Linked DNA regions of Homo sapiens. Each later gene encodes a partner of the first gene's protein in a complex. Each region holds a gene or a part of one and is shown in the gene's direction. Other genes may lie near its edges. The genes, in order: YWHAQ and CFTR.

Region 1 (2,847 bases):
TAGCCCTTCACACACTTGAAAATTGTTAACCATGATTGTGGCTTTTTCCTCCCTGTGAAAATGTTTTGCTTTATTAGTCTGTAATAATAATGCAGTAGTGCTTTCAAGAAGAGCATTGGGCTGCTGGGAATAGAGACTATCACTTTGCTTATTCTGAAAGTAGAGTGCCTTTTTAAAAAAGTTTCTCTTTTTTTTTTTTTTTTTTGAGAAAGGATCTCACCCTGTTGCCTAGGCTGGAGTGCAGTGTCATAATCATGGATCACTCCAGCCTCAACCTCCTGGATTCAAGCAGTCCTCCTGCCTCAGCCTCCTGAGTAGTTAGGACTGTAGGCACACACCACCCCGTACCTGGCCAATTTTGTTTTTGAAATTTTTTGTAGACGTGGGATCTTGCTATGTTGTCCAGGCTGTTGAACTCCTGGCCTCATGCGATCTTCTCATCTTGGCCTCCCTACGTGCTGAGATTACAGGCGTGAGCCACTGTGCCTGGCCAAATGCTTTTTAAATAAAAAGGAAGCTATAAAACCATGCTCCAGTGGTATATGTATGTATGTATGTATGTCATTTTGTAAGTGCATAGTGAAAGGTCTGCAAGGATGTACTTTGGGAAGGTGATGGTCTTTGGGGTTTTGAGAGAGAACTTCAGTCTTAGTCAAGATCTCCATTGTTTGAGGAATTTACTACTCTTGTAGTTAATTTTGATATAACAATACTACTTAGTGTAATTGCCTAATCTAGAAATAGTAACTTAATATGATTCTTCTTTTTCTAGCTTTGGACATCAGACAGTGCAGGAGAAGAATGTGATGCGGCAGAAGGGGCTGAAAACTAAATCCATACAGGGTGTCATCCTTCTTTCCTTCAAGAAACCTTTTTACACATCTCCATTCCTTATTCCACTTGGATTTCCTATAGCAAAGAAACCCATTCATGTGTATGGAATCAACTGTTTATAGTCTTTTCACACTGCAGCTTTGGGAAAACTTCATTCCTTGATTTGTGTTTGTCTTGGCCTTCCTGGTGTGCAGTACTGCTGTAGAAAAGTATTAATAGCTTCATTTCATATAAACATAAGTAACTCCCAAACACTTATGTAGAGGACTAAAAATGTATCTGGTATTTAAGTAATCTGAACCAGTTCTGCAAGTGACTGTGTTTTGTATTACTGTGAAAATAAGAAAATGTAGTTAATTACAATTTAAAGAGTATTCCACATAACTTCTTAATTTCTACATTCCCTCCCTTACTCTTCGGGGGTTTCCTTTCAGTAAGCAACTTTTCCATGCTCTTAATGTATTCCTTTTTAGTAGGAATCCGGAAGTATTAGATTGAATGGAAAAGCACTTGCCATCTCTGTCTAGGGGTCACAAATTGAAATGGCTCCTGTATCACATACGGAGGTCTTGTGTATCTGTGGCAACAGGGAGTTTCCTTATTCACTCTTTATTTGCTGCTGTTTAAGTTGCCAACCTCCCCTCCCAATAAAAATTCACTTACACCTCCTGCCTTTGTAGTTCTGGTATTCACTTTACTATGTGATAGAAGTAGCATGTTGCTGCCAGAATACAAGCATTGCTTTTGGCAAATTAAAGTGCATGTCATTTCTTAATACACTAGAAAGGGGAAATAAATTAAAGTACACAAGTCCAAGTCTAAAACTTTAGTACTTTTCCATGCAGATTTGTGCACATGTGAGAGGGTGTCCAGTTTGTCTAGTGATTGTTATTTAGAGAGTTGGACCACTATTGTGTGTTGCTAATCATTGACTGTAGTCCCAAAAAAGCCTTGTGAAAATGTTATGCCCTATGTAACAGCAGAGTAACATAAAATAAAAGTACATTTTATAAACCATTTACTATGGCTTTGTAACAATTGCATACCCATATTTTAAGGGACAGGTGAATTTACTACTTTCTAAAGTTTATTGATACTTCCCTTTTATGTAAAATGTAGTAGTGATACCTATATTTCCACATTGTGCATTGTGACACACTTGTCTAGGGATGCCTGGAAGTGTATAAAATTGGACTGCATTTCTTAGAGTGTTTTACTATAGATCAGTCTCATGGGCCATCTCTTCCTCAGATGTAAATGATATCTGGTTAAGTGTTATATGGAATAAAGTGGACATTTTAAAACTAGCAAAGTTAATTATGTGATTGTGAGTGCCTTGGCTGTTATTAGAATTGTGCTTCAGTGGATATTCAAAAGGAATGTAAGAGTTCAGACACAGATACTCCTCAACTTAAAATGGGGCTACACCCTGATAAACCCATTGCAAGTTGAAAATACGAAGTCAAAACTGCACTGAATACACCTGACCTAATGAACATTATAGCTTAACCTATCCTACATTAAATGTGCCCAGAACACTTAGCCCTACAGTTGGGCAAAATCAAAGAACATGAAGCCTACTTTATACTAAAGCGTTGGATCTCTCAGGTAATTTGTTGAACACTGAAAGTGAAAACCATTGATTGTATAGGTACTTGAAGTATGCTTTCTACTGAATGCCTGTCATTTCCACACCATTGTAAAGTCAAAAAATTAAGTTGGGGACTCTATGCTTCTGTTTGTAAACATTCAATCTTACTATTAGTGAGTTCAAAATAATTTTGGTTTTATAGTATCACAATAGCTATTATTTTACTAACCAATCTCAGATTAGTAAAATAACTGAGACTGAATGACTTGAGAACTGATTTTTAAGTCAGAAGATAATCTGAAAAAATAGCTATGTAGGATTCTTCTTGATCCTAAAATGTGAATATGAAACAAGGCTTCATTTATAGTTGTTTTCTTTTCTTTTCTTTTTTCCCTTTTTTTTTTTTTTTTTTTTTTTTGAGA
Region 2 (7,316 bases), on another chromosome or scaffold:
TCATTCTATTCATGATATTTCAGAAGCAGATCTGTTGCACAAAATAAAGCATACCTATAAATTTTCTTTTTTTAAAAAAAAGTCTCTGTTCACTCTATTTTCTATTATTTTTCTCTTTTTAAAATTTGAATTTTATTGTGGCAAGTCCACTTAACATGAGATTTACCCTCTTAACAGATTTTTATGTGTAAAATACAATATTGTTCACCATGGGTAAATGTTGCACAGCAGATCTCTGGAACTTATTCATTTTGCACTACTGAAATTTTATACCTGTTGATTAGTATCTCCCCATTTCCCTCTCTCCCCTGTCCTGTTACCCATGGTTCTGTTCTTTGCTTCTTTGAGTTTGAGTATTTTGATACCTCATGTAATCTTCATTCTATTTTCTAACTTTGACAATGTTCTGACAAATTTGCTTTCCGGATTGGAGCACTGTATAGTGAAAATTGAAAATCTTGGTTATTTTCTACAGATTCCCACTATTTTACCTTGAGCAGACACTTATCTTGAAGGGTCTCAGATTTGTCACTTGTAGAATGGGGAATATAAACCTGATAATGGTCCCTTTCAGTTCTAAAGTTATATCAGTTGAAAATACATGTGTCACTTATGGTAACGGGTAGAGAACTGGCTCACTGAACAGCATATGGATATTATAAAGTGGTTTTTTTTAATCCTTTCTGCAGACAGTTACTTTATACTTTATTCAAATGGATTATTGTGAAGTACATGTTAGCGGACTTTGTACCTTTTAAAAATGTATGTATTTGGTGTAATGTAGAAATATAGAAATTTATTAAGTATGATTTATTTCAATGTTAAGCATGAGAAAATATGCTCCGAAAGGTTAGATAGCTTGCCTAAATGACAAGCTTGTATTTCAAGCAGAACTTTCTGAATCAAAAGACTCCAAGACGAATGCCCAGCTTTCAAAAACTGTCTAACCAAAATAAATCCTAAGATTCACCTTCATACTAAAATTATTTAAAAATAGTTTATTTTAAATTAATATTCACTTAAAATGTATTTATCATGCAATACTTTAAAGTGTCTGGGAAATGAAAATATCCAAAGATCAAAGAACACCATGTTTTCAAACTTCAAAAATGTTATCAGTGACCTAAACAATTTTTAAAATTTTCATAGAGCCTATGAAAAATGTACTTGCAAATGGCTACTTTCTGACTAGGAATAGAATGGGGAGAGTATTTAGTCCAACAATGATAGACTGGATTAAGAAAATGTGGCACATATACACCATGGAACACTATGCAGCCATAAAAAATGATGAGTTCATGTCCTTTGTAGGGACATGGATGAAATTGGAAAACATCATTCTCAGTAAACTATCGCAAGAACAAAAAACCAAACACCGCATATTCTCACTCATAGGTGGGAATTGAACAATGAGATCACATGGACACAGGAAGGGGAATATCACACTCTGGGGACTGTTGTGGGGTGGGGGGAGGGGGGAGGGATAGCACTGGGAGATATACCTAATGCTAGATGACGAGTTAGTGGGTGCAGTGCACCAGCATGGCACATGTATACATATGTAACTAACCTGCACAATGTGCACATGTACCCTAAAACTTAAAGTATAATAAAAAAAATAAAAAAAAGTTTGAGGTGTTTAAAGTATGCAAAAAAAAAAAAAGAAATAAATCACTGACACACTTTGTCCACTTTGCAATGTGAAAATGTTTACTCACCAACATGTTTTCTTTGATCTTACAGTTGTTATTAATTGTGATTGGAGCTATAGCAGTTGTCGCAGTTTTACAACCCTACATCTTTGTTGCAACAGTGCCAGTGATAGTGGCTTTTATTATGTTGAGAGCATATTTCCTCCAAACCTCACAGCAACTCAAACAACTGGAATCTGAAGGTATGACAGTGAATGTGCGATACTCATCTTGTAAAAAAGCTATAAGAGCTATTTGAGATTCTTTATTGTTAATCTACTTAAAAAAAATTCTGCTTTTAAACTTTTACATCATATAACAATAATTTTTTTCTACATGCATGTGTATATAAAAGGAAACTATATTACAAAGTACACATGGATTTTTTTTCTTAATTAATGACCATGTGACTTCATTTTGGTTTTAAAATAGGTATATAGAATCTTACCACAGTTGGTGTACAGGACATTCATTTATAATAAACTTATATCAGTCAAATTAAACAAGGATAGTGCTGCTATTACTAAAGGTTTCTCTGGGTTCCCAAATGATACTTGACCAAATTTGTCCCTTTGGCTTGTTGTCTTCAGACACCCTTTCTTCATGTGTTGGAGCTGCCATTTCGTGTGCCCCCAAACTCTACTTGAGCTGTTAGGGAATCACATTTTGCAGTGACAGCCTTAGTGTGGGTGCATTTTCAGGCAATACTTTTTCAGTATATTTCTGCTTTGTAGATTATTAGCTAAATCAAGTCACATAAACTTCCTTAATTTAGATACTTGAAAAAATTGTCTTAAAAGAAAATTTTTTTAGTAAGAATTAATTTAGAATTAGCCAGAAAACTCCCAGTGGTAGCCAAGAAAGAGGAATAAATATTGGTGGTAATTTTTTAAGTTCCCATCTCTGGTAGCCAAGTAAAAAAAGAGGGTAACTCATTAATAAAATAACAAATCATATCTATTCAAAGAATGGCACCAGTGTGAAAAAAAGCTTTTTAACCAATGACATTTGTGATATGATTATTCTAATTTAGTCTTTTTCAGGTACAAGATATTATGAAATTACATTTTGTGTTTATGTTATTTGCAATGTTTTCTATGGAAATATTTCACAGGCAGGAGTCCAATTTTCACTCATCTTGTTACAAGCTTAAAAGGACTATGGACACTTCGTGCCTTCGGACGGCAGCCTTACTTTGAAACTCTGTTCCACAAAGCTCTGAATTTACATACTGCCAACTGGTTCTTGTACCTGTCAACACTGCGCTGGTTCCAAATGAGAATAGAAATGATTTTTGTCATCTTCTTCATTGCTGTTACCTTCATTTCCATTTTAACAACAGGTACTATGAACTCATTAACTTTAGCTAAGCATTTAAGTAAAAAATTTTCAATGAATAAAATGCTGCATTCTATAGGTTATCAATTTTTGATATCTTTAGAGTTTAGTAATTAACAAATTTGTTGGTTTATTATTGAACAAGTGATTTCTTTGAATTTCCATTGTTTTATTGTTAAACAAATAATTTCCTTGAAATCGGATATATATATATATATGTATATATATATATATATATATATATATATACATATATATATATAGTATTATCCCTGTTTTCACAGTTTTAAAAACCGATGCACACAGATTGTCAGATAGCAATTCTGTGATTGAAGGGGAAATATGTCACCTCTTCATACTCATATTGGTGAAGGGTCCTAGCTTCAAAATTAATAGATTCCTAAAGAGGGGAAATGAAACATCCGCATTTACACACACACACACACACACACACACAGAGTTCCTCTTGTCGGTAAGTTTTGTTTTTTTTAAATCTCTACTAGATAAAATTTGTTATCTAATTGTGAGTTTTACACAAAGAAAAACTGTCACAGAAAAGAAAGACAGTGTCACATTTTTCAAAAGAAAAAGAAGAAAAGAAAGTGCCATGTTTTTCAAATACAAATGTTCTGGATTGATTTTAGGATCTTTAGTGAAAAACAAAGTATTTCATAATAAGTAAAATAAAAATCTATGTAGGTAAATTTGTTTCTCTAATTTAAGAATTTGAATTTCTGAGTATTTATGATAAGTGTTGAAATAACTTCTTATATGTGACAGTGAATACTGGCAGAGCAAATGCCAAATCAATGCCAAATCTGTAGGATCATTTGATTGTAGGAACAGAATTCTACTCAAACCGAAAGCAGGCATTTGCTGGAGTTACAGAAAGGCCTCATGGAACACCGAGAAGGTGGTGCCATTCGACTCTTAAAGAAGCTGCAACAGGCACAAGAGAGTCAGCTGCAGCTCTTCTTCTTGAGTCTATATCTGTCCTGGGTCCATTCCTTTTTGTGGTTGCTTCATTCCTTTCTCTCTCTGAAGACTGGTTTTTCTGGTCTACCAGGGCTATGCCACATTGACTTTATGTAGTGTCTCCATTCTGGCCTCCTGAATTTACAGGAGAGTTCCTCTGTACAAACTCAAAGTCCTGGAGAGAACAGAAAACAGCTTCCTTTTGGCTCAGGGGTCCAACTGCAGTCTACTCTGCTGCTATGAGGATAGTGGGTTCACCACCTTTGTTGTTCTCTCAGCTAGGGCAGTGGGAAATGACTCTATGAAAGGAATATACATGGGCAGGCAAATGTACTAATCCTCATCAGTACTGTAATTTTAAGCAACTTTAAAAAATTCTTTTAAGTTATTTGAAAATAAGATCAAAGAAGGCTGAATTACATAAATGAAGATTTGTTAACAATTAATTCAAACCAATATAACACATGCTATAACATGGTTGAGTGTGATTGAGTCTTGATTTATTAGGGGCAATAATCAAAACATTTAACAATCATTATAGTACAGAACTTACCAATCAAATCAGATGCTCAGCCGGAGTGGATGTTGGCCACCCAGCTATTATTATCCCTGGCTCAATTGGTCTTCAGCTGTGTTAACTTGCAAACATTAATTAACTATCTAAGCCCCTCATTTTCCTCAAGTGTAAATAGACACAATAATATTACCTATTCCATAGGTGTGGGGTGAATAGTAAATGTAATAATTTGTCCAAAACACTTAGTATAGTGCCTGGTCCATGGTAAATACTAAATAAATGTTATCTGACTTATTATTAAAATTTTATCTTCTCAGCTTAACCTTCAGAACAGTAATATATTGGGGTCTAGATAAATCTTGCCTATATGAAAATAATTTAATACTACATGCAGATATATGCTGTGTATATTATGCCTTCTGTTAGAGGAATTGCAGAAACAAAAATTTCAATTAATAATAAGATGAATTATTTCTCCCAATTGTAGAATCTTTTGACAATTTTATCATGCATTACAGATGTAAGAACTCTTGATTGGGACTTGATAGTCTAACTTTATAATAATTTAAGAACATTCCTCTTAGAGAATTTCTATGGCCATAATACTGAACACATGAATTTTAATTAGCTGTCCTCTTTAGCCCTAAAAAAAAAATTACTGTAATTTAACACTTAAGTGTTGTTCTTCCCAGGTACAGTAATCTTTTTTTTTTTTTTTTTTTTTTTTTGCATAGAGGGTAATCTTTTCTCTTTCCAAATGGCAGAACTGTTAGTTTTCTGACTGTCCGGTGAAATTCTAAGTCCACTTACTTCCCAATAGCATGCAATTAGCAAAGGTCCTCCTTGCAAAGGCACAGAACACACCTAAACATCTTGCAGATGCTGTTTGGACACTCTTCCCCTGCTTTTGGTCTCTTTGTAAAGCAGCTCATCTGGATACAGGATCTCTTTTCCCCATTGCCCATTCTAATATATGTTACCGTTATTACTTATAGAATAATAGTAGAAGAGACAAATATGGTACCTACCCATTACCAACAACACCTCCAATACCAGTAACATTTTTTAAAAAGGGCAACACTTTCCTAATATTCAATCGCTCTTTGATTTAAAATCCTGGTTGAATACTTACTATATGCAGAGCATTATTCTATTAGTAGATGCTGTGATGAACTGAGATTTAAAAATTGTTAAAATTAGCATAAAATTGAAATGTAAATTTAATGTGATATGTGCCCTAGGAGAAGTGTGAATAAAGTCGTTCACAGAAGAGAGAAATAACATGAGGTTCATTTACGTCTTTTGTGCATCTATAGGAGAAGGAGAAGGAAGAGTTGGTATTATCCTGACTTTAGCCATGAATATCATGAGTACATTGCAGTGGGCTGTAAACTCCAGCATAGATGTGGATAGCTTGGTAAGTCTTATCATCTTTTTAACTTTTATGAAAAAAATTCAGACAAGTAACAAAGTATGAGTAATAGCATGAGGAAGAACTATATACCGTATATTGAGCTTAAGAAATAAAACATTACAGATAAATTGAGGGTCACTGTGTATCTGTCATTAAATCCTTATCTCTTCTTTCCTTCTCATAGATAGCCACTATGAAGATCTAATACTGCAGTGAGCATTCTTTCACCTGTTTCCTTATTCAGGATTTTCTAGGAGAAATACCTAGGGGTTGTATTGCTGGGTCATAGGATTCACCCATGCTTAACTGAGTGGTGCCAAATTGTCCTCAAGTCTGTTGTACTGATATATATCCCCATCAAGAGAGTACAAGAATTCTCATAGCTATGTATCTTCAACAACACTTGGTGTCTGGTAGATGTGAAGTGATTACTAAAAATATAGGGAAGCTGCATACATAATTATTGGCTTTTGCTGTTCTCTTACATTAATTTCTTATTCATGTTGATTACTCATTTGTCACCTAGTTTTTTCTTCCTTAATTAAATTGTAGGAATTTATGAATTATGGATTGATCATCAGCTCTATACATTTCAAACATAATCCCTCAGTCAGTGGCTTGGCTTATAGAGTCTTTTGATGAAAAGAAGCTTTTAAGTTTAATAAAGTTCAATTTATTGTCTTTTCCTTTATGTTTTGTGCTTTTGGTATCTTGATTAAGAACTCCTTCCTTATATTGGGTTCTCAAATTTAGCAGCATAACATTTTCATACTATTATTTAAATTTTTTTCACATTATTTAGTGATAGCACCTTTCTTATTCCTAAAGTGTTTATCATTGCCTTCTGTCTTTCTGCTTGATAAATATTGCCACACATTTGTATACTTTATTAGTGTGTACAAAGACCACATTTTAGTTGTGTTATTTCTCTTGTTTTGGTTTTCTAGAATGCAGAGCCATTAATATTATAGTAATGCTTATGTGCTAATACCATATCAGGGGCACAAATCCCATTGCAGCGGGACTGAGAAATTAAAGGAAATGATGCACATTTACTCATTTTTGTTTAAAAAATCAAATGCATATTTTTCAATCAGACTATATGGTTGGTCTGGATAGCTTCATCATTGAATTTTTAAAGTATTTTTGTACTACTGTATTTAAAATTATTCATTCACCACTGCTTTTGTAGATGGTTTAGAAACCCAAGTTAGGAATGACTGTGCAACACTATTATTATACTCTTTTTAAAATTATACTTTTTGCTTAAGTTTCTTTCCTTGTTCTCTGAGACAGTGTTCATGTTCCCAAACCACACACATTTATTCAGCTATAAAATTTGTATGATCAACTCCTGTCAGAACAAACATCATTATAAAAA

The links.
Region 2: the proteins of YWHAQ (region 1) and CFTR are in contact, whole or in part, in a crystal structure (PDB 7QI1), measured with the Homo sapiens proteins. Residues at the interface, in NP_006817.1 of Homo sapiens: Asn38, Arg41, Asn42, Ser45, Val46, Lys49, Arg56, Arg60, Glu113, Phe117, Lys120, Arg127, Tyr128, Glu131, His164, Pro165, Ile166, Gly169, Leu172, Asn173, Val176, Glu180, Ile217, Leu220, Asn224, Leu227 (codon at 773), Trp228 (codon at 776); in NP_000483.3 of Homo sapiens: Arg764, Arg765, Arg766, Gln767, Ser768, Val769, Leu770, Asn771, Leu772, Met773, Thr774.

What each region holds. Positions count from the first base shown.
Region 1 is NC_000002.12:9,583,271-9,586,117, reverse strand, and holds the end of YWHAQ (14-3-3 protein theta), read left to right. Parts: intron 1-772; coding exon 773-832; 3' UTR 833-2,151; downstream 2,152-2,847. UniProt on the Homo sapiens protein: Adapter protein implicated in the regulation of a large spectrum of both general and specialized signaling pathways. Binds to a large number of partners, usually by recognition of a phosphoserine or phosphothreonine motif.
Region 2 is NC_000007.14:117,608,776-117,616,091, forward strand, and holds part of CFTR (cystic fibrosis transmembrane conductance regulator), read left to right. Parts: intron 1-1,743; coding exon 1,744-1,894; intron 1,895-2,805; coding exon 2,806-3,033; intron 3,034-5,837; coding exon 5,838-5,938; intron 5,939-7,316. UniProt on the Homo sapiens protein: Epithelial ion channel that plays an important role in the regulation of epithelial ion and water transport and fluid homeostasis. Mediates the transport of chloride ions across the cell membrane.